Regions from separate parts of the Homo sapiens genome. Here regions 1 and 3 are each linked to region 2. Evidence: fine-mapped expression QTL. A gene starts in region 2. Each other region holds a variant in brackets. All regions are shown on one strand. Distances are from middle to middle.

Region 1 (8,466 bases), 140 kb before region 2:
AACAAGTTGACTGAACTCAGACCTTTCTTGAGACATATAAGGCATTAAAATTCATAACTACTTTTGAAAATTAGAATGTACTTTTTATTTCTTTATGAAAACTAATAAAAATACAGTGTTATTCCTTAAGAAATGTTGAGCCTTACCAAATAAGATATAATCCAGTTAATAAACTTGAGATTTTTTCCATCCTGCTTTAGATCTTAGATCCTGGAATGTTGAAGCTAAATAGAACCTTAAAGAACATCTCTCCTGTCAGGTCTTTGGAGCCCAAGCTAAGCCATATCCCCCGTGACCTTCACATATACATCCATGGCCTGAAGCAGCTGAAGATCCACAAAAGAAGTGAAAATAGCCAGGTCCTGCCTTAACTTATGACATTCCACCATTGTGATTTGTTTCTGCCCCACCCTAACTGATCAATTGACTTTGTGACAATATACCGTCCCCACCCTTAAGAAGGTACTTTGTAATGTTATCCCCCCACCCTTAAGAACGTACTTCGTAAGATTCTCCCCACCCTTGAGAATGTACTTTGTAAGAAGATATACCCCCTGCCGGCAAAAAATCGCTCCTAACTCCACTGCCTATCCCAAACCTATAAGAACTAATGATAATCCCACCACCCTTTGCTAACTCTCTTTTCAGACTCAGCCCGCCTGCACCCATGTGATTAAAAAGTTTTATTGCTCGCACAAAGCCTGTTTGGTGGTCTCTTCACATGGATGTGCATGACATTTTCAAGTGTAGCTGTGGAGGGAGTAACATATTCAAGCCTTCAAAAGGAGGGAGTCCCATGAAGACACGATCTCTCATCTCTCTTTTCTGTGTCTCTTTCTTTTTCTCCCTCTCTTTTTCCCTCCCACTCCTTCTCTCTCTCATTATTTTCTCTGACAATTCCACTCTTTCCTGGTAAGAAACAGATTCTGTTGTCCTCCTCCCTACCACCCAGTCCCGTTTTGCATCTGTAAACCCCAAATATCAGAGACAGATCTCAGTCAATTCAGGCAGTTTATTTTGCCAAGGTTAAGGACTCACCTATGACACAGCCTCAGCAGGTGCTGACGGCATGTACCCAAGGTGGTCGGGGCACAGCTTGGTTTTATACATTTGTAGGGAGACAGGAGATATCAATCAATATATGTAAGATATACATTGGTTCATTTCAGCAAGGCGGGACAACTCAAAGCAGGGAGGGGGCTTCTAGGTCATAGATAGATAAGAGACAAATGATTACATTCTTTTGAGTTTCTGATTAGTATTTCCAAAGGAAGCAATCAGATGTGCATTTATCTCAGTGAGTAGAGAGATAACTTTGAGTTCTGTCTGTCCTTTGTCCGCAAGGAATTTCCTTGTGGACAAATTGTGAGGGAGGTATATAGTTTTTTGTTTTTTTTTTTTCTTAGTAGCTATCTTTTTTAGAAATAGAATGAGAGGCAAGTTTGCCCTAAGCAATTTCTAGCTTGACTTTTCACTTTGGCTTAGTGAATTTGGTTTCCCTAGATTTATTTTCCCTTCACACATCCTTCACATTTTAGGTGCCTCAGTCCTGGACTGAATGCTGATGAAGACTCCCACTCAGGTATTGCATCAGGGCAGAAAGGTGTGATGCCTTTCCTTACCCATCATAAGGGTCACCACCAACATTCTTGTAGCAAAAGACAGTTTAACAAGCAAAAAGCATAATACAAATTCTTATGTCACATGGGAACTTTCAGAAATGAAGACCAAAAGACCCAGGGAAAAGTGTCCGTTTTTACACTTAAGTTTGATGAAGAAAGCACAGCTGTGTAGAAACGTGCCTAGGCAAAAAGGTATGATCTAATGTTGATAGACTGAGGGGATAAACCCAGCAAGGGCTGTCTGCTCAGATTCTTTCTGGCCTCTCTCTGTAGCATTCCTTTCCCTGGGGCTGGACCCTCTGGAGTGAGGGTCTTGCAGGATGAAGAGAGAGAGTGACCTTTCTAGTTTTCATAGCTTGCTTTGGGCGAGTGGAGTTCTAGTTTTTATGATCTGCCATGGGGAAGAGGAATTCTGGTTTCTCTGACTCCCTTCAGGGAAGAAAGGGAAGTGGAAGACCAGAGGGCGGGGGAAGGTCAGAGAGACCTTGCTTCTGAGGTCCTTCCAATCTCCTTCAGTTCAAAGTACTTAGCATGCCAAGGCACCATACTTTGCAGTATCATGTTCTAAGCCCCCAAATTGCTGACTGTAGATGAGGAGGGTTTGAATTCCAGCCAATGAGAGAAGGTAAAACTGTTGACATCACTTTATTTTGGTCTACTTATCACTTAGCATTCTGGTTTATTTCTTGCTGATTTTCCCAGGGAGCAAGCCACACGTTGCTAGAATGAGCAGTCATTTTTTGGGAGGACAACACAATCTAATCTTATAAGGAGAAAGGGTATTCCTTTTGAAACCAAAACTTTGACCCTATCTCTTATGGAAACATGACCTTAATAACCTTAATAACAGGACCTACTGGCAGTAAATGGCTCTCTTTGCCATTCTGGAGAGTCAGAATCAGCTTTAGGAGGCCAGAGGGCAGAGATTTATCTGCTTTGTTCATTGCTGTATCCCTTGCATATAAGCACAAAGCAAAAGCTAAATATATATTGGTTGAAATAATAAATTTGTTTATCCTCCAAAGTGTCTATCCTGTCCTGCACCCATGAGAAGAAGGAAATTTTAAATTCATCCTGCAATACATGTGCACACACATACACACATACATACTGTTTGGATCTTTCTTTGCAGGGGTAGAAGGCCAGATGCTTTTAGGTCCAGGCTGTTTTTGGTTCCAAGAGACTACTGGTGAACTGTAGAATAGTACATCATTTGCTTTATGGCTGAAGGTGAGTATATCCAAGGGAGAAGTTGAGGAGGGGAAATCTTGGGGTGAGATGATAGGCTATCTAAATATGTTATCTATCTTAAGGAGCTTGGCAGAAAGGGTGAGTCAGGGTATAGAGCCATTGGGATGGAGCGAGTCAGAGATAAAATAAGAAAATATGTTCTAAGTATAACATGGAAGAGTCAAATTTTGGAATCTCCCAGGCAGGGAGCAGCCATGGCTTTTAGAGGGTGCTCATGACCACAGTGGGTAAGGAGATAGTAAAGACATATATAACCATGTGATTATATATGTATATATATGTAAATGTATGTGTGTGTATATGTATCCACACGTATATAACCACACCAACTTGCTGTCTTTACTCTCTCCTTACCCACTGAGGCCATGAGTACCCTGTAAAAGGGGATAGACTTTACAAAATCTACCAGTCCACAAGATAAGGAATTTGTAATTATTTCTTAAGGTTTGAGTCCATTTGAAGAGTGGTTTGTGTCAAGCAATGAAAAAGCCAAATACGATGTAGTATAAATCAGGATCCAGAGAGGAAAGCTCAGTTCGTGCCAGGTGTCCAATAGAAATAATTTAATACAGGGCACGAGGTACAAAAAGACTGGAAGAGCTGAGAAGCCAAATAGGGCTTCTTAAAGATTAGCAGCTTAAAGATTAGTAACAGCAGGAAGCCACTACCACCCACAGGACTGAAGGGACAAAGAAAGGAGATAGTGTGTACCAGAGCTTGGAAGTCAGAGTCACCTGGAGCTGGATGTGTAACATGTGTAAGATGGCTGCTTGGTGGGAGCTGGGACCATGGAAAAGGGCCCATTGGCATTGGCTGGGATTATGGAGAAGACCATGTCAACACTGGAGATACTGCTGGAAGCAGAGGAAGGGAAGATAAATCCCCTGGCTTCTCCATTCCTCTTATTCCTCAATTTCCTCCTAGTGCTGCCAATGACCATATCTAGCTGGAGGCAGTTGGCAAGGGAGTTTGGAAATTTTATTTATAGGTAAGGGTCCAAAATAAATTTTGGAACAAGCAGGTAAATAACCTGTACAGTGAATTAAATAAAGAGAATTCTCTTGGTCTTTCCCTGAGCACCTGAGGTGGCTGGGACAGCTCCAGCTCTAATGTCCATGCGCAAGGTAGGAAGAAGAGGGAAAGGCTATGCCAATCATTTATGTCTCCATTTACCAGCAAAACTAATTTCTATTTTCCAGAATGTGCCCAGTTGACTTCTATTTAGTTCTCACTGGCCTGGACTGAGCAGCTGAGAAACGGGGAAAAGAATGGTCATAATTGGCTTAGTCCATTTATCCCCATCTGAAGTGGTGCACAATGTTATTATAACCAAAATAAAGGTTTCAGATGGTGAGTAAAAGTGGGAAGTGGAGAGTGAGTAGGTAGCTAAAGTGTCTGCCAAAGAATTAAATGTCTTCTGGACTTTCAATCTTTGCTGACTTACTTTGGACTTTAAAGCTTCTGAGCAGCTTGGTATCCTGGTCCTCACTGAATTTTAACTGTTGGCCCCTCCCTGTTAGATATTTCACTATTTGTTCATAACTTAGTTTGAATCACTAGCACTTGTCCTTAATACTCTGAACTTCCTTCTTTAGTCTATTGTCTCCCAGTTTTGATTACATAAGGACAAATTCAGTATCTACTATGTACCAGGCATTGTTCTAGGAAGGTGAGATACATCAGCGAACAAAACTGGCAAAAAAAATCCTTAACCTCTGTAGAGCTTACATTCTGGTGAACCGAGACAGACAATAAAAAGTAAATAGCATATTAGAA[G/A]GAAGTAAGTGCTATGGAAAAAAACAGAGTAAAGTGGTTGGGATGGGAAGTTTCAGGGTGGAGTGTTCTCAATTTAAAATAGGACACTCAGGGTAGGGCTCTTGGAAGCTGAAGCCTCATCTGACTACTATCTGCATGGTTCTATTTCTCACAGAAAAGGTCAGGCTGGCCTTTCTCATAGTTAGGGAACCTTCCACTTTTCCTGGCTCTAGGGAAAAGCCATGAAAGTTTTCTTGATTCAGTTTTTCTAGCTTTCAAAGAGTAATAATTATGTTATTTGAAGTTAGAATTTATATACTTATTTTGTTCCGGACTGCTGAAAAGAACATGTTAACAGCAAAATCATTCAAGATTTAAGAAAATAAATCTGCTTGCACCAGCAATTTTAAAGTTTGATTAGTTTCCATCAACATATCCCTTATCTAAACATTTCTGAATTAAATAGCTTTTAAAATAGATATGCTACTGTAAAATAAAAATATACTTGAAGAATTTCTAATCATTGACTTCACACTAATTTCATGCTTAACCATGTAATTCTTCTGATTTAAAATTTTGATCTTTTGAACACAGTTTCTTTTTCCCAAGAAGGGGGTGCTATATAAAGATAATTGCTTGGTTGCAAAGACCAAAGTGTTGCTGACCTTTTGCTTGAATATCCATCCCTTTCCTCTTATATTTCACCAGCTTTTAATATATTTCCATCCTTTTCCTCTTATATTTCACCATTAACTCCATCCCTTTCCTCTTATATTTCACCATTAACTCCAAATGAGCCAGGCCTCATCTTTCACCCTATTCCTATCCTAACCAGTAGCCACAATAAGTTCAGAGTGAGATTCCTCAGATACATCCTACCTGCTGTATCCTGAATAAACCAGCTTGACTTGCAGAATTTTAAGCAGGGTAGCCTGAGCTTGTGGGTAATCATTCTTTGAGAAGGTCAGGAGCAATTGTCACTTAAATCCAAAGCCTTACTGTTACCCCAATTTACATTTTCCTCTATTTATGGAATACTACCTCATTTTCATCACTTTCCTAGAACCTATTAGAAATATGTTTTCTTCTATGACCCTAATAGTAACTCAGGAATACTTATATGTTTTGACATAATCTGGAATTTGTGTTTAGAGATTAAAATCTAAGATAATCCAATTCTGTTATATTATTTTAGTGCTGAATTATGTTTTTTAAAATTGTAGACAAAGTCTTCAGTAATCTCTATGCTGATGATTAAAGAAAACATTGCTATTTTCATAGGTCATAGAGAGGATAACTGAGGAATTCATTGGCAAGCTTGTGGGTGTTGCTTTTTACAGTAATTTATTGTGAAATATAGGTGAGTCATTACCATATTACTGCTACAAAACTGCAATAACCTCAAAAAATTTTTATAAAACATTTCAAATTGGGGTAGAAAAAGAACTTCTGAAGAAGAAAAGAGACATATAAATCAAACGTGTCCACGTGTAGTACTATGTGGTGGCGGGGGGATCCTGATATATCTTTAATCCCTCTTGGAATGTATTGAGTGTATAGAATGTAGAATATCTTTGTTTTAGTCTGTGTATTCTTAACATACCACTACCACCTGACTGAGACCAGCGTTTGCTCTAATACTTACTATGCAACCGTAACACTGGCATTGCAGTGATTCATCATATGGAATTGTAGGCAGAGAAAAGCTATTAGCCAGCCCATGCAATAATTGAACCCTTGAAAGAAAGTTTATTGACAGATTACTGTGCCTACTTTGCAAGGCACTGGGGATGCAGAGATGAATAAGCACAGTTTTTATTTTCAAGAAATTTATAGTACAATCCAGGGCAGATATGACTCTTTTTTTCTTTCCAAGCCTGGATGCTCAGTGGACACACTTTTTCACACAGCGATCTAGGAAGCCATCACATTTCCAGCCCCATCTCCATGATCCTCTGGGTTCAGCCATATTATCTTCAGATCCTTGAACCTGTCCTACACTTTAGCCTTTGAGCTATTGAACTTGCCATTCCTTCCTCCAAAATCACTGCCCTGCCCACACCCACAGACCTCTTCTTTGCTTGGTTCACTTCTACTGGTCCTTTGCATCTGGATTTAGCTCTCACTTCCTCTAGGAAGTCTTTTCTGCCCCACTCTGCCTCCCCCTGCCCTCCTAAGTGTTCCCACTTCCCCATCCCAGTATTTATCACATCTTCCTGAAATTGCCTTTTTACTGAATTCTGTCTCTCACTAGGCAATAGTCTCCATGACCATAGGGACAGAGTCTTGTTCACAACTGTATCTCCAGGAAGGATGAGCATGCCTGTTTCATAGTAGACGGTCCATAAATGTTTTTGAGTGAAGAATCTGGCGCAGTTTTTAGAGCTGGGGGTCAAAGTCAGAGACAGATTAGAGGCCAGAGTGATTGGGTCCAGGACTTAGATAGGTGGGCAAGATTGGGTAAACTTCTCTTCTTGGGCCTGTCTATTCTGGGGCAGGGAAAACCTTTGGATGGGTTTAGGGGCCTCACTTGGAGGGCCACAGAGGCTTGAATCCAGCAGGGCATGGTTCCAGAAGGTAGAGAAAAGGACACTCATTAATACCAATTTGACACCAAATTGGAGAGACAAACCCCCAGCAGATGCCCTCCTCTGGATGCCATAGGGTCTAGCTTGAGCCCTGCTGCCTGTACGCAGGAGTGGGAGGAGGAGATGGGGATGGAATATGCTGTAAAGGGAGAAAACATGGGTAAGGGGAAACTGTAACAGAGTTCCTTCTAGACCCAGATCTCAAGCCTTTACTTCTTTTATTCCTTGTTATTTTACTCATCTCAGCACCCCCCACTGCCTGCACACCAGATCCCTGTCCCTAAACCCAGCACCACTGTCACCTTTCAACCTGTCTCTTCCACTCTTCCATCAGATGCTCCTTGTTTAAATCATCCTTGCCTTTGCAACATCAGTCCCTGCCTTCTCTAAGGGGTTCATTGTAAGCATCATTGTTTCTTAGGCTGACCCACTTTCTAACCCTGGTCTTCACAGGACCTTGATCTCTCTCTCTCTTGAGCCAGCTGTTGGCCCAGGCTTCAGGCCCCTCGGATTCCCATCCTGCCACACATCAGACTAATGCTTCAACCGTAGCTTAACCACCCTCCAGCTGAGATGTTTGTATCAGATTTCAACATTTCTTTAATTTTTTTTTTTTTGAGACAGAGTTTTGCTCTTTTTGCCCAGGCTGGAGTGCAATGGTGCCATCTCGGCTCACTGCAACCTCTGCCTCCCCAGTTCAAACAATCATCCTGCCTCAGCCTCCTGAGTAGCTGGGACTACCACCACCACGCCCAGCTAATTTTTTTGTATTTTTAGTAGACGCAGGGCTTCACCATGTTGGCCAGACTGGTCTTGAACTCCTGACCTCGTGATCCGCCCACCCTCACCTCCCAAAGTGCTAGGATTACAGGTGTGAGCCACTGCGCCTGGCCCATTTCTTTAATTTTAATCAATATTTACCTTATGGTATCAATGGCCATGTGGGAAAGTGAGAGTGGTCTCAAGCCTTAGTGAGATCTGAGAACTAAGTGAGGAGCCCTGTCCTTCACTGACTTCTCACTCATCAACAAATATCTGTTGCTAGATGTCAGCTTATTGCTGTACCGAAAAAATTACATGGAATAAAAAGTAATGAAAAATAAACAATATTTTAAATTGGTGATCTATTGCTATGCCAATATAAATCTTTTTTCACTATCTTCTCTAGCATCCAAAAATTTGAATACTTAGCAGACAGGTCTGAGACCAGAGTGTGAAAGCCTAGAGTCCATCAGCATCACGTGATTGTT
Region 2 (8,466 bases):
GGCTTTTGGGGTATTCAATAATAGGGACAGAGCTAAAATGGCTGAAATGACCCAGAATGGCAAAAAATGGGATAGACAGCCAGCCCAAATGATTAGCAGTCACTGTAAACAGTGCCCTGCAACCTCAGGGTCACCCAGGAAGACGCTTCACCGCAGACCAAACAGGCTCAACAGCAAACCTGCAGGCAACGGTTGCTGCTCCAAGTGTGAGAAGTCAGGACACTGGAGAAAGGACTGTCCCAGCCAAGGGAGCCCACCCAGACCCTGTCCTCACTGCAAGCAGGAGGGCCATTGGAAAAGGAATTGCTCTCAGCTCTGAAGGGAGAGGAGGCCACCCAGTGCCGTAATGGCCATAACTGAGACTGAAGGGGCTTGAGGTCCCTGGCAGCTCCCATAAAAGGCATGGTCAACACAATTGAGGAGACTCTTGACGTGGCAGATTAGAATATCCTTGAATTCATTCTTTTGACAGTGTCAAGAGCCTGGACACTGGCTGGGGTCAAGGTCCCACTGGCACCTGGGAAACCCCCAGCTCACTGGTATCACCTGGGCTGCAGCAGCACCCTGCATTAATAGTCATCTTTGGCTTTCTCTCTGACCTGGCAACTTATTTATTTAGTCTGTCCTACACTGAAAATACTGAGAAAGAGAAGAATTCTTTTTTCATTCTGAAGGACACAAATGCAGCCTAAGACTGAACATTTGATTGAGTTCTGCAAATGGGAAGGAAAAACACATAGCCTCCTCAGTGTGAGTATTGTCTGTGCTTCTGCCACAAAGGTGTGATAAAATGGCTCAGCTAATTTTCTTGCTGGGGATACTGATGATCACAGAGCAGGAGAGGTGGTTTCCCTCCAAAACCACACTGAACAGCATGCTGTTATCCCCTCCTTTTCTTTTTATTCTTGTTTCTTCTTAAGCAAATGCTTTTTTATTTTAGCAATAGAATTCAGTTCAGTAACATCTCTGAGTGTTACTTTGTGCAAGAGAACCAACGGCATGTGACAGAAACCCTGGTTTCTCTAGCGTGCCTGTCACAGCGTGTTACCCTGAGCCTTGGTCCCAGGTTGCTGAAGTCTTGGATTAGTGTGGGTCTGACCAGTTAGCACACTCCTTTTTGGATGCCTTCTTACATTCACTCCAGCTTTCATCAAATAACTATCCCCACCCTAGTTTCTCTAAAGCAGTTCTAGTTTGTACATTCTTTCCTTTCCTCCCCACAAATTACTACAAAACAAATGTCAGGTAGTTTCCTATCAATTAATTCCCAAATTAGCATTTCTAAAGTCTACTTTAACATTTTCTTCCTTTCACCTTTTTCTGACTCAACATCAATGTCTTCCTTTCAGATATCACCAACCCCCACCACCCTCCCCCAACCCCTAGCACTAATTGGTTAATTGTTTCTTCAGTTGCAGAAAAATAGAAAGATCTAAATGGAGGACTTACAAAATATGGAGCTCTTAAATAACGGACTTGAAATTGAGAATTATTACAAGCCATTAATCATTATAGATCTCCCCGGAAATGAATGAATGAGAATTTATCATTGCTCTTATTAGGTACGTGCCTCCAATACTTCTTCAGGAGGATTTTCTGAAGCCCCAGGTAAGCGTTTAGGCATTGAGATGAAAACAAGCATGAGAAGCCCCACTTTGCCAGTGTGTGTGTATGTATCTGTGTGTGAGAAGAGACTGGGGGAAGGAGTTGGGTGTGGGGTGGGGACTAACGGCGGCGGTGGAGTGTTAGGTCCTCTCTGGTGTGTGTGTTTAGTGCGCCATCTGGTGACTGAAGCTCACAGAGGGAAGAAAGCCTGAGGTCCTAGGAAGACAGGCACAACCCAGGGTTGGGGTGGCTCCTCATGGTCAATTCGGGGTTGCTAAAGTGGCTGTATTTCAGCTTTACCAGCGCACAGGTGACAAATGTTGTGCACATCATGGAGAGGTTTGTGTAAGTCATGACTTATTCAAGAAAAATAATAAAGGGCTTTAAGGACCTATTGAGAAAAGCAAAAAGTACAGTTACACAATTATCCCAGACAGTAGGACTCTAAAAGTGTAAGTACTCTGGTTGAACAAATAAATGAAACTCTTCTACGAATGTGGGAAATGCAAAAAGGAATTGAAGGAAGGGAAAAAACTGAAGGTATGAGTAGAAAATTAAAGAGAGAGGCAGGATAGCATCACGCTTTGTAGGCTGTTCTAAACCTGGGTTCAAATTTCAGAGCTACTGCTTACCTTTTGTGGGACAATAGGCAATTTATTTAAACTCACCAAGCCTCAGTTTGCTCATCTATAAAATGAGGATCATTCTGTTTACTTTCTAAGGATACTGTGAGGGTTAAATAAAAGAATTCACAAAAATACTAAGCCCAAAGCTTCACATGTAAATGCTCAATAAATGGTAGTTGTTATAAGCAGAGAGAAGAGAAGAGGAAATGAAAAGCCAGAAGGGAGAAAGCTCAGTAAGGATAGTGTAGGACGCCTTAGAAAATTATGAGAAAGGAAGTAACATCTAGGACCCTCCAACTTAGCACAAGGCTAGGTTGATCAACCCAACAGGTGAATACCACGAAGGCTGCAATCTATGACTCCAGTGGACAGAGGGTCTCTGCCTGAAGCCCACTTTTGTTATTATCCTTACAAGTGTCTGAGAGAATGCCACAGCAGGGCTGGCCATCCTTCTTGGTACCCCTGGGACTTCAAGGTGTGGCCGGGCAACTCTATAGTTAACCTCTATACAGGACTTTCTCAGTTCCATGCTCGTAGCTTATGTGAAAAAAGTCAAATGTGACCAGGGCAAGATGGGGCTGATCAAGGCATAACAACTAGGGATGAAGTTTGATCCAGTGAGGGACGCTATTAGCATGACTGAGCTGGCAAGGAGGTTTCTGAGAACCCTGGCTTGTCACTGTTGGTGGCAGTTAATAGTGACATGGAGAGTCAGCTCGCCCAGCATGGCCGGAAGAAATATCCACGTAACCTGAGACCCCTTCCTTCTCCATTGAATCCTTATGGCAGACTCAGGAGGTGGAATCCCAAAGCTGCCTCACTCTCTCTTTCAGAACCTGATAAGTCTACTTCTATGGATTGCCTAAAGCCCTTCAGACATCTAAAGTCTCTGCAGAGGAAAATATTGCACTACACACACACACACAAACACACACACTCGGGACCTCCAAGGGAGCCCTTAGTCTACCATCTGCAGCCAGAGCTTTGAAGCTAGAGATCATAATGCCTGTTCCCTGATGTAACAGTCAACTGCAATCTCGACTTGCAGCCATTGCCTGCATTTCTAACCTTTTACCAGCTTCCTTCCATGCCGAGGAGAAACTAGGACCAAGAACACAGTAATATGATCCCCAATTAGCATAAAATAAAAACAACCTAGTCATGTTTTCCATGGGCTTTTCCAACCTCAAACTAAAAGCACAAAGCAGGGAGAAAGATATAAGAATATACACATGGGACTATAAATACATATATACTGTCTGTGTCAGCACAGCCAAGCACCCTGACCCAAATGAGTATCTGTCTCTAAGAAAAGAATGTAGCCTGATGCAGAAATCTGAGAATTTTCTCCTTCCAAAGTACAGTGTAAGAACAGACTGGAAGAGAAGTTACCCCGATGACTTGGTTTGGAAGGGGTTAAGGCACCAGTCATCCTCTTCTAAAGTGATTTATGATGATGTGTGGAGTTTAAAAACTTTACCCCACCCCAAAGAACAGCCTTCTCACTCCTCACTGAGTCCACTCTGAACGTGCTAAAATGGGAAGGAGGCGGTGTTTTGCTGATCTGTTAAATTCTTAGTGAAGTTTCCTTGATTTCCAGTGGCTGCTGTTGTTTGAGTTTGGTTTGGAGCAAAACTGAGGTAGTCCTAACATTTCTGGGACTGAATCCAGGCAAGAGAAAGAAGAAAAAGAAGAAGAAAAAGAGGAGGAAAAAGGTAGGGAGAAATAAAGGGAGGAGAGAAGCACAGTGAAAGAAAAAAAAAGTCCCTTTTCGACATCACATTCCTGTGTTTTCCCTCAGCCTGGAAAACATATTAATCCCAGTGCTTTTACGCCCGGAAACAAAGAGACTAAGCCAGACTATGGGGGAAAGGGAGATAAGAAGGATCCTGGAACTTTAAAGAGGGAAAGAGTGAGATTCAGAAATCGCCAGGACTGGACTTTAAGGGACGTCCTGTGTCAGCACAAGGGACTGGCACACACAGACACACGAGACCGAGGAGAAACTGCAGACAAATGGAGATACAAAGACTTAGAAGGACAGCTCCTTTCACCTCATCCTACTTGTCCAGAAGGTAAAAAGACACAGCCAGAAAGAAAAGGCATCGGCTCAGCTCTCAGATCAGGACAGGCTGTGGATCTGTGGCGGTACTCTGAAAGCTGGAGCTGCAGCACACCCCTTTTGTATTGCTCACCCTCGGTAAAGAGAGAGAGGGCTGGGAGGAAAAGTAGTTCATCTAGGAAACTGTCCTGGGAACCAAACTTCTGATTTCTTTTGCAACCCTCTGCATTCCATCTCTATGAGCCACCATGTAAGTGTGTAATCTTTTCTGTCTTTGATCTGTTTATTTGTTTCTTTATTGCTTATTTTGAAGGAATGAAATGTGAATGTTGTCATAATTAATATGCTAGTTTGCATTTTCTTTGGAGCATCCAGAGCATTAGTTGAAACAGTACAAGCATGCTGACTGGGAAACTGAATTGGATTTCCTGCTTAATGTAACTGTCTCTGTTAAACACTAACAAATTATAGGGGATTGAAAGTAACAGGATCTCATCCCATTTTCCATCTCCTGACCTCCCTCCTTCTCTCTAACCAACCTTTTCCCCTCCCCTTGGCTGAGATACAGAAAAAGAAAATGACCAGCTCTGTTTCCAGATAAATAATTTTCTTTCTTTTTTCCCCCTCCCCTTTGTTTTATGACCTCCGTGCATCGCAAAGTGGATTACACAATGACATGGAGAATGGGACCCCGTTTCACTATGCTGTTGGCCATGTGGCTAGTGTGTGGATCAGAACCCCACCCCCATGCCACTATTAGAGGCAGCCACGGAGGACGGAAAGTGCCTTTGGTTTCTCCGGACAGCAGTAGGCCAGCTCGGTTTCTGAGGCACACTGGGAGGTCTCGCGGAATTGAGAGATCCACTCTGGAGGAACCAAACCTTCAGCCTCTCCAGAGAAGGAGGAGTGTGCCCGTGTTGAGACTAGCTCGCCCAACAGAGCCGCCAGCCCGCTCGGACATCAATGGGGCCGCCGTGAGACCTGAGCAAAGACCAGCAGCCAGGGGCTCTCCGCGTGAGATGATCAGAGATGAGGGGTCCTCAGCTCGGTCAAGAATGTTGCGTTTCCCTTCGGGGTCCAGCTCTCCCAACATCCTTGCCAGCTTTGCAGGGAAGAACAGAGTATGGGTCATCTCAGCCCCTCATGCCTCGGAAGGCTACTACCGCCTCATGATGAGCCTGCTGAAGGACGATGTGTACTGTGAGCTGGCGGAGAGGCACATCCAACAGATTGTGCTCTTCCACCAGGCAGGTGAGGAAGGAGGCAAGGTGAGAAGGATCACCAGCGAGGGCCAGATCCTGGAGCAGCCCCTGGACCCTAGCCTCATCCCTAAGCTGATGAGCTTCCTGAAGCTGGAGAAGGGCAAGTTTGGCATGGTGCTGCTGAAGAAGACGCTGCAGGTGGAGGAGCGCTATCCATATCCCGTTAGGCTGGAAGCCATGTACGAGGTCATCGACCAAGGCCCCATCCGTAGGATCGAGAAGATCAGGCAGAAGGGCTTTGTCCAGAAATGTAAGGCCTCTGGTGTAGAGGGCCAGGTGGTGGCGGAGGGGAATGACGGTGGAGGGGGAGCAGGAAGGCCAAGCCTGGGCAGCGAGAAGAAGAAAGAGGACCCAAGGAGAGCACAAGTCCCACCAACCAGAGAGAGTCGGGTGAAGGTCCTGAGAAAACTGGCCGCCACTGCACCAGCTTTGCCCCAACCTCCCTCAACCCCCAGAGCCACCACCCTTCCTCCTGCCCCAGCCACAACAGTGACTCGGTCCACGTCCCGGGCGGTAACAGTTGCTGCAAGACCTATGACCACCACTGCCTTTCCCACCACGCAGAGGCCCTGGACCCCCTCACCCTCCCACAGGCCCCCTACAACCACTGAGGTGATCACTGCCAGGAGACCCTCAGTTTCAGAGAATCTTTACCCTCCATCCCGGAAGGATCAGCACAGGGAGAGGCCACAGACAACCAGGAGGCCCAGCAAGGCCACCAGCTTGGAGAGCTTCACAAATGCCCCTCCCACCACCATCTCAGAACCCAGCACAAGGGCTGCTGGCCCAGGCCGTTTCCGGGACAACCGCATGGACAGGCGGGAACATGGCCACCGAGACCCAAATGTGGTGCCAGGTCCTCCCAAGCCAGCAAAGGAGAAACCTCCCAAAAAGAAGGCCCAGGACAAAATTCTTAGTAATGAGTATGAGGAGAAGTATGACCTCAGCCGGCCTACTGCCTCTCAGCTGGAGGACGAGCTGCAGGTGGGGAATGTTCCCCTTAAAAAAGCAAAGGAGTCTAAAAAGCATGAAAAGCTTGAGAAACCAGAGAAGGAGAAGAAAAAAAAGATGAAGAATGAGAACGCAGACAAGTTACTTAAGAGTGAAAAGCAAATGAAGAAGTCTGAGAAAAAGAGCAAGCAAGAGAAAGAGAAGAGCAAGAAGAAAAAAGGAGGTAAAACAGAACAGGATGGCTATCAGAAACCCACCAACAAACACTTCACGCAGAGTCCCAAGAAGTCAGTGGCCGACCTGCTGGGGTCCTTTGAAGGCAAACGAAGACTCCTTGTAAGTAGCCTTCTCCTTGGCATTCTTCTATGGGCTGAGGCAGGGCATGTTAACGTCTGTCTTGTTAGTTTTGTAAAAATCATATTGCTAGATGCCAGACTGTGACTGAACCTGTACTGTGTCAAGAAGCTCAGAAGTCTGGCAAAAGAGGGCAGCAGGCCAGTAGCTCCTTCTGGTTTAGTGACCTATGAAGTTCTGCTCACACAACTCATGGCCCTGTGGTACAAAGTCAGTGGCTGGGGACCCTACACATGAGCCCAGGAGAGCACCTGTAGTCAGCTTCCTCTAGACCTGTAGGGACCCTTCCCCCATTTCTACCACTCTCTTCCAAGGGATATTTCTGGACAAAGCTCTCTTTTACCAAGTCCAAAGGATGAAAAGAAAGATGAAATTCCTAAAAGGGAGTGCATTGACTTCAGTTACATCTTAGTAAAAGGGTTTCTCTCTGTCTGACTTAGGAACTAGAATCATGTCTATGGGACAATAGCAGAGGTCCCCTCTTTCACTAATTAGCTCTATATCAACATTGGAGTGCTCCAAGAGGAAAGTAAGACAGCCTGGGTGGGGAGTGGGTATGACTGAGAGTAGAGAAGAGTCCTTGTTGGTATGACCCTCACGGATCCTTTTAAAATGAGCTAGCAGAAATCTTCTCCCCTTAAAGCCTACCTCTCCCATTTCTATCCAGCTACTAGGAAGAGCCAAAGAGTGGAATGTGGGGAACTGGGTTAATTGCTTCAATTTCCGGTACTCTAGAGATACACCTGAATTTAAAATCTAGATGTCAGTTTCTCCGGGGGCTCTGTAAAATGTGTATGTGCATGTGCCTGTGCATCAGTGTGTGAAAAAGGAGACAAGCTGTCCCTACTTGCCCTTGGTCTGCAGTTCTTTGTGCCACTCGTGTTGAGTAAGGCACAGATTCATCTCAGCAACTCTCTGTTTTGGCCATCACTTGCCACCACCAAATGAGGGCTTCGGGCAGGAGTGAGCCAAATATAAGGGCAGTTTTTATCAGTGATGTGCAAATGGCTCCTTCTCCTCTTCTTGTCTTCTCTTTCCCTCTTTTACTGCCCCTCCAAAATTTCCACCCCTGGATCTTAAGACTAGCTTTTTACTCCAGGCTGTCAAGGAGGAAAAGGATATTGTTACCATTAATTCTGAGTAAAAGATCAATAAATTGATGTTGGGTAATGTGAGTCAGGAATGATTTTCTCAGATGCCTGGGTGAGAGAATCAACTCATGCCATTGAGGGCAGCACCCATCCTCTTGAAGGCACAAGGTAACTGCACACCCTGCATTTCCCCCACCAAAAGAGACAGACACTCTTTTCTCAAGGCATTTTTTAGAGGATCTTTTAGGTTTTCCAAGCTAGCCTAAATTTCGGTTAATAATCTGGGCAGAGGAACTCTGGTGCCCATTTATCGTGTGTTGTTTCAGAAAGTTTAAATGTGCATTTGAAATATTACTCAGAGCAAAGTTCTTTGTGATGTTTATCATGAGTGGGACATATCCCAAATTTTCTTAGCTGTTTACATTGATAGTAGGTCTGTGTATTAGAGTAAAACCTAGCTCTGGTTGATTCTAAGGATTTGTGTGTATGTCTGTGTGTGTTTTGTTATATATTTT
Region 3 (8,466 bases), 78 kb before region 2:
TGCATTTGTGCATGTGTGTATGCATTTCTGCATGCATAGGAACATGTGTCTGTATGTTTGTGTATGAGGAGAGGGGTTGCTGGATAGGTCTCCCTGCAAAGTTTGGGAAGTCAAAGAGCAGGGCATAAAGTCATTCTATACCTTGGATGAATTTTACTGAGCACGGCTTTAGAATTGCAGCCAGCACCACAGGGCTATATGGAAACAGGGCAGCAAGGCTCAAAGAAAGCAAAGATTTCCCTGCATGCTGCACCCAATTTTCTTCCCTGGTTCGCAATTTGTGGGACTTTGTAATTTTATTGTGGCTCTATAGAACTCCGGATGTCAGTTGGTAGTGTACATTTATTTGCCAACTCTAAGAGGCCACTTGGTTATCAAGGCAACAGACAGACACAAAGGATGCTCGTTGACTTCTGCCTGGGGGAAGAGGTAGAAGTGGCTATAGTTTCCTGAAATCAACTGAAGTCACAAATCTTCCTAGGGAGAAGATGGTTGTCACATTTTAGCCAGTTTTCAGCTACTAGTCAATGTCAGCTGCTGAGCCTGAGACCAGACTTAATGAGCTCTTTAGTAATGCAGAGATAGTGCAGGACAAATATTAGAAAGTATGGGCATTCCCCTTTATTCTCTCCAGGGCTATTGATCCCAAACTGGCTTGGAGAAGAAAAGAAAGAAATATTTATGTGAATTGAGTGGTTAGTATAATACTTTTGAATTTGACTGGATGAGAGTAAGTATCTGAAAGTGACTAGATTAATTTTCTGCCATCATCACAAATAGAAATTTGAAATCACAAGGTTTATGCTGTTATGGAACAAACTGTTTTTGTGCTCCTGAGTTAGGTGGACAGTTGTAATGGGAAAATATCATACCAGTTTTATCAAGATGAAGAAAATAATCCAGGAGAGAAGTCAGGAGGAACAATATCCCAAAAGAACAATGGAATCGAAACCGTTGTCTAGAAGTTAATGTGTACAGAAAGTAACTCAGAGGAAGGAGTAATTGCATCTTCTGAAAAAGTAGCAGCAATTGAGTCTCTCCTCAAACCCACTAACTGCTGGCTGTTTTGCTGATCTCTTTGGGAATTAATAATACCGCAGCCAAAGGAATCTGGAATGTATTGTTGGTGACTTTGAAGTCCAGGCTACAAATCGAAGCATGTGGAGCCTTGGAAGAGGAAAAGGCACCAGGGAAGTGAACCATTGGCCACAGAAATTATTTTAAAGTGTTGTAGGCCATGATTTTTCATGCCAGAACATCTGAGCCTTGGCAAGGATGATGTGCACCCCATGAGAAAAGGAAAACTGTGTTTGATAGAACTTCTAACCTGTTCAAAAGGGATTTAACCTGAAATATGAAAGAGGATGAGGGGAAAAGAAACCATAGACAAAGCTCTAAAATAAATCTGGTGATTAACTGATACCACATTGGAAGAACCATTGCCAAGAAAGTGCTCAGTTATTCTAACAAGAAAATATCAAGGAAGAGAATCAACAAGTAAATTTATGACCTTGTCTTACTATATATTCCAATGCATAGAGAATGGCTAGAAGCTAATAGAACTTGACATTTAACACAGGTGGTCAATGTGATTTCAGGACATCACTGTGAAGACATAAAGAGATGGGGCTTATAATTGTGAAATGCTGTATGAAGGGTGATAATTAAGAGTACTCCAGCTGGTGCAGCCACATCAAAGAGCAAAGTGGCAGCTCTTGGTCAGATTTACTATATGTATGTCAGCAACCCAGCAATTTGGCCTTTGGGCATATATCTCAGGTTCATCATTATGAACTTAGGCAGGTTCATAATTTATTGCAGCCATTTTGGTGGTGATAGGGAATTGAAAGCAATCAGGGTGTCCTTCGGGGGAAAAGTGGATAACCACATGTGGTAGGTGAATGCCAGAAAGCATCATGCAGCAGTTAGAACCAGCAGACTAGAAGTAGACATAGCCCCATGTATGGAGCTAAAAAAGATGGTACTGAGTAAAAATGTAAGAAATAGGATGATATACACGTAATAGAATATCAATTATATGTTCTAAAATACATTCACATGGAAAAATCATGCACATTTTGAAAGTACATTTATTAACACATGAATTCATTAGACATAGGAGAATGGTTTGGACAGGTTGGGGTATGGTGATAAAAAGAACTTGGACAGACTAATATGATAGTATATCATGAACTAAACAGTATGAAGGGAGGAAGAGAGAAAGATAGCAAGGGGAGGGGTGAGAGAGAGAGAGCAAGAGTGAGCGAGAGAGAGAGGGAGAGAGGATGTTTTAGTAGAAAGAAAGAAGCAGTAGGATCTCTATAGAACAAAATGTACTGAATTACACTTGTAGAGAAACCCATGTGTATGTCTTTGTTCCCGACAAAATCCTGTATGATGTGTTATCAATAACTGGAAGGAAGATGTAAACGTAATACTTAAAAACTTTTGATGAGACACAAACCTGGAATAATTTGTTACTATGTTGGGTAGTGAAAATCAGAAATAACATCTTAGGAGTAACCAGATAAATGGTGGCTCCCAAGCCTAGTGCCACTGTCTTTCTCTGATGGTGAGGTGTAAGATATTTTCGTTGGCAAAGAAGAATCTAGTAATAGGCAGCCAGACTGCTAGAGAAAACAGAGCTGTATCTCTGCATTTATGGGCCATTACTGACTCAATTTTTTTTACTGTAATGGGAGACACTCAGGAAGAGCCCCTCTACATACACCATGGGACCTGAGCTGCCCTGATACCCATGATTTTTCCTTCTTATGAAAAACATAAGGAATTAATATTATATCATTATTCCCTGTTTTTCTAAAGTAATGTTATTAATAATCAGCATTTACTAAACTCATATTGTGACTCTAGTACTATTTTAAATTCTTTAAAGAATTTCTTTTAATCACTTTACAATGACTCTATAAAGTACTATCATTTACTAAACTCATATTGTGACTCTAGTACTATTATAAATTTTTTAAAGAATTTATTTTAATCACTTTATAATGACTCTATAAAGTAATACTACCATTATCCCACATTTGTAGGTTTGGAAAGAAACTGAAGAAAAGTTAAGAAATGTGTCCAAGGTCACACAGCAAAAGGTACTAGAACCAAAATTCATACCCAAACTATCTGATTCTAAATCTATTCTTTTAACCATTACACTGTAGCTCTCCAAGAGTTGAGCTGTATATTGCATCAAGGAAAGAGAACATGTAATATTGCCAAATTCACTACTAAAAGGCCTTTTTAGGTTGGAAGGTGCCTGCTTGCTTTTTAGTTTTTGGGGTTTTGTTTTTTTCTTTGTTTTACAATCGGCAAATGATGTCTTTATTTTCTCTGTTATGCACTAGGTTTGCAAGTTTGCACAGTCAGCTTTATTCTTGACTCTCTCAGGCCAAGCCTGCAGGGCTTAACAGTAGTGGAAGATGATCCTTTTATCAGAAGCATTTGTACACCTGAGAACAGGCACTTGGCTAAATCAATCCATTTCTCCAATTAACTCTGTTTTCTTCAGTGCTTGCTTTCTTTTTGTATCTCTAAAAGAAGAAAGAAAAACCTGCTCATAATATTCCAAATTTAACAGAAGAGTAGTGATAGGATGACACTGTGCTATGCAAGGCAGGCCCTCCTGCTGTCAGCCTCAGGTCACTGAGGGAGCAATGCTAGACCTGGGGCCCAGAACCTTTGGAGAAATGAAGAATCCCACTTTCAGGCAGAGGCCAGACATCCATGTGAGTAATTGCTGAGGATGGCTTGGCACTACATTTGATGGATAATAAAGGGCATGTAAAACCTTATGGTTTCTCTTAGTGCCCTGAAATTTCCATTTCATCATAATCCAGAGAACCAAGTCTGATCTTGCCCAGAAAGGAGAGACATTCTTCATGTTGGCAGCCTCACTACACTTCTTCAGATCCCTTGTTTTTAAAAGCTGTACCACATTTCTTC[G/A]TTCAGTCAGGAAATTTCAATCCTTCAGTCTCCTCCTTGCCTCCTCTCCCCTTCTCTTCTCCACTCCATGTCTCTCCCCTCCTGTCTCTGTTCTTTTTGTATTTTGTTTACTTGTATCTGACAAGTATTTTGTGTACTTGTATTTTGTTTACTTATCTGACATCCCTACTACATTTCAAATTTGTTGAGGAAACATATTACATTTTTCTCACCTTTTCCATCCCTCACCTGCCAATTTAGGAGAGTGTTTTGCATATAGCATTTCTCAATAACTATTTGGTGAATTAATGTACATGTGCATGCATCTATTAGTTGTGTTTATTAATTTGTTTCTTACTAGAAACATCTAGGGAAAAGTCATTGTCTCTAGTTATCAGTTGATGTCATTTCATGACTCTGACCTTTTCTTCCACTCTCTGGAAAACGTAACTGATGAGGTCTACAGATGTTCTTTATGTTGGGCTTACACCTCCATACATTTATTTGTAAGTTGAAAATATCATAAGTTGAAATGCATCAGGTTATGTCCTGATAAGCCTATCATAAAGCTGAAAAATGTTAAATCATTTTAAGTTGGGGACCATTTGTATTGTATGAGACTGGAAATAAATTAGCTTACCAAGACTTATCTACAGCTCAGAGTATCTTATTCTCCTCCTTTCTTCTTTTTCCCATCCTTTTTCCCTTTTCTTCATTTAATATTAGCTTTTGTGGTTTTTTTTCAAAAAATAAAATTATTAATTTTAGTGAGACTTAGGCTATCAATAACTTTGATTTATTGGAAGACTATTTTTTCTTTAATCCAATGACCTAGGCTGAATTAGATTGATTTTATTGGCACAAAGATGTAGTGTTGTTGTCTTTTACTTAGGGCAGGGGTTGGGTGGGATGAAGCTAAGTGTGGTTGGAGAAGCTAGCCTTGGCTCCTAGAATTTGATTTGATGCCAGTTGGTAGAAAGTTGAGCATTTCTAGTTCTTTTCAATATGATTATGTAGTAAAGAGAAAAATGTACAAACTAGGCAGCCGAGAAATAATTTTCCTCAAGCCATATAATAAAAAAACTCAAGAAGCATTTTGACTTTAATTTGGCTGCCGTAAAGCAGGGAAAATTAAAGGTTTGTTTGTTTGTTTGTTTGTTTTTTGACAGAGTCACTCCAACACCCAGGCTGGAGTGCAGTGGCTCGATCTCAGCTCGCTGCAACCTCCATCTCCTGGGTTCAAGCGATTCTTGTGCCTCAGTCTCCCTAGTAGCTGGGACTACAGGCACGTGCCATCACACCCGGCTGATTTTTGTATTTTTAGGGAGACGAGGTTTCACCTTGTTGGCCAGGCTGGTCTTGAACTCCTGGCCTCAGGTGATCTGCCCACTTCAGCCTCCCAAAGTGCTAGGAATACAGGCATGAGCCACTGTGCCCAACCTATTTAAAGGTTTTTAATACACCATCAGGAAGCCAACTGCGATTTAGATGATCCTTACAAAAGACATATGTTTTTTTCTGTACAGAAAAAAAATGACCTAACCTGCTTTGAAATACAAAAATGCTAGTGCTTCAAGTGGGATTCTAGAAAATGTCACTTATTAATCAACTTTACAACATGCCTTTACAGTAGGCCGAAATATTTATTTGAAACTATTGATAGTAAATGAATGGCAACTTTACTCTTGCTTCTACCTCTCCTTGTTTTTGACTCTTCATTATTTGTGACATGTATCCAAAGATTCTCCACTTCTCCTCTCCCAAAAATGCAGTTCTAGCTCTCTTGCACTCCTGGCCATACATATTGCAGACGTTCATCTTTCTGGAACGTGATTGGGTCTGGACAGCCTCATGAAAACATTCCTATCATCCCAGCTTTATTCCCATGTTCAGTTTTCCCACAGATGACTGGGAAATGTTGATTGCTATATCATGTTATCTGACAAATATATCTACCCAGGAAACATGGCATCTAGTGATTTATTGCATTAACTTTGTATTCTGGCAAAACTATATAGGGTGATGATATCAGCCATAAAAAAAAATCTTGATAGTCCTGTGTTTTTGGCCAGGCACAGTGGCTCACACCTGTAATCCCAGCACTTTGGGGAGGCCAAGGCAGGCAGATCACCTGAGGTCAGGAGTTCAAGACGAGCCTGGCCAACATGGTGAAACCCCGTCTCTACTAAAAATACAAAAACGAACAAGTTGTGATGGCAGGTGCCTGTAATCCTAGCTACTCGGGAGGCTGAGACAGGAGAATCGCTTGAACCTGGAAGGTGGAGGTTGTAGTAAGCTGAGATCATGCCACTGCACTCCAGCCTGGGAGACAGAGCGAGACTTCCTCTTAAAAAAAAAAAAAAAAAAAAAAAGTGTATGGTTTTGTCCCCAATACTGTTTAGAATATCCTGCATATCTCTGCTAGTTTCTCTGAAGCTTTTAGTATGTTTTTGGAGGTCTATATATCTCAGGCAAATCCAGCGTTGCTCATCTAATCTTCCCAGACTTCCTCTTGTTCCTGGACACACTGCTGGCTTACATTTTCCAACCCTCAAGAAGCTACCTGTGGCCATTTGAGTTCTAGGCAATAAAATTTTAGTAAAAGAAATATGACCACTTTCTAGCTTAACCTCTAAAACCTTGGAGTGATCCTTTAAGCCATTATTCTCAACTAGGGGGCACACACTCATGTATACACACATATACCCTCCCACCCCTCATCACAACTGGCAGATGGTCACTGGCGGCCAGGGATACTGCTAAACATCTTATAATGCATAGAACAGCAATGAGAAATGATCCAGTCCAAAATGTCAATAAAACTGTATTAAAGTTCTTCAGAGTAACAGAACCAATAGGATATACACACATACATATAACTGGATATTTATTGTGAGAATTGGCTCACACAATGATGGAGTCTTAGAAGTCCTACATTTGCCAGCTGGAGACCCGGAAAAACTGATGATATAATTCAGTCTGGGTCTGAAGCCCTGATACTTAGAGGCAGAAAGCCAGAGAACTGAGGGGCAACTGGTAAAAGTCCCAGAGTTGGAAGACCGGAGAACCAGGAGCTCTCATGCCTAAGGGCAGGAGAAGATGGATGTTCCAGCTGAAGAAGAGAGAGAATTTGTCCTTTCTCTATTGTATTATTTAGGCCCTCAATGAGTTGGATGTTGCCACCCTCATTGCTGAGGGCAGATCTTCCTTACTCAGTCTGTTTATTCAAATTCCAATCCCTTCCAGAAATACTCTCATACACATCCCCAGAAATAATATTTTACCAGCTATTTGGGCATCCCTTAACCCAGCCAAATTGACACATAAAATTAACCATACAAATACTGAGGTTGAGAAAGATTGCTTTAAGCTCTTCCTTATTCTTTCTCCAGCCTGGATGCAGAGGGTCCACAAGAGGATTCTGAGAACCTAAAAGTTGGTAGTTACCACCTTTGGTGATTCAGACTAACTCCGAATCCCTACATGATGGCCTTCACTGAATGTCTAATTGGCCTGTGACTTGGGCAAGGAAGAAAACTTGTACTGTGTTAAGTCACTGAGATTTCAGAGTTGTTTATGAAGCTATAGAATAATAATAATAATAAAAAAACTTTTAACTAATACAAGCCCAAATATTGGGCAAATTAATCTCTCTTTATCCTAATTTCCCCATCTATTAAATAGAAATAATAGCACCTACTTCAAAGGTTTTTGTGAGGACTGAATGAGCCTACATTTTTTTTGTTTAAGAGACAGGGCCTTGCTCCGTCACTCAGGCTGGAGTGTAGTGGTACAATCATAGCTCACTGCAGCTTCAACCTCCTGGGTTCAAGTGATCCTACTGCCTTGGCCTCCCAAAGTGCTGGGATTACAAGCATGAGTCACTGCACCCGGCCTGAGTCTGCATTTGTAAAGCACTTAGAACAGTGCCTAGCTAATTGGCTAGTTATTACATTCATTAAAACCTATTTGTCCTGTGACCCATTTCATAATAGACTACTCCATGACAGTTACTTATTTAGTGCCTCTGTGTGTTCAGGCTCTGGAGTTAGCCACATTATATACTATCATCTCATTTAATTACTATGAAATACAATTACTATTGTTGTTTTCATAAAATGATTGATTCCTGGCAGAATTTTCTTAGCTGGCTTAGTGCAAGACAGCGATTTGAATTCATCTTTGACTCCAGCAACAATGCTTTTTGTACTACTCCATTAAGAACTGATAATGGGGCCGGGCGCAGTGGCTCACGCCTGTAATCCCAGCACTTTGGGAGACCGAGGCGGGCGGATCACAAGGTCAGGAGATGGAGACCATCCTGGCTAACAAGGTGAAACCCCGTCTCTACTAAAAACACACAAAATTAGCCGGGCGTGGTGGCTGGTGCCCGTAGTCCCAGCTACTTGGGAGGCTGAGGCAGGAGAATGGCGTGAACCCGGGAGGCAGAGCTTGCAGTGAGCCAAGATCAGGCCACTGCAATCCAGCCTGGGCGACAGAGCGAGACTCTGTCTCAAAAAAAAAAAA

What was found. PIP is the estimated chance that this variant, and not a neighbour inherited with it, causes the effect.
Region 1: its variant is fine-mapped to the expression of CCDC80 in nasal epithelium (TOPMed, PIP above 0.99).
Region 3: its variant is fine-mapped to the expression of CCDC80 in nasal epithelium (TOPMed, PIP above 0.99).

Annotation. Positions count from the first base shown.
Region 1 is chr3:112,776,294-112,784,759 of GRCh38, reverse strand. No RefSeq gene overlaps it. Among named protein-coding and RNA genes, the nearest start is that of CD200R1L-AS1, 22 kb to the left of the region's middle. The variant G/A (reference allele first, on the strand shown) is at 4,650.
Region 2 is chr3:112,636,404-112,644,869 of GRCh38, reverse strand. CCDC80 (coiled-coil domain containing 80) reads left to right here and starts at 3,727. Exons shown (of 8, transcript NM_199511.3): 1 at 3,727-4,543; 2 at 4,954-6,842. The coding sequence starts at 4,965.
Region 3 is chr3:112,714,086-112,722,551 of GRCh38, reverse strand. No RefSeq gene overlaps it. Among named protein-coding and RNA genes, the nearest start is that of MIR9900, 19 kb to the left of the region's middle. The variant G/A (reference allele first, on the strand shown) is at 3,961.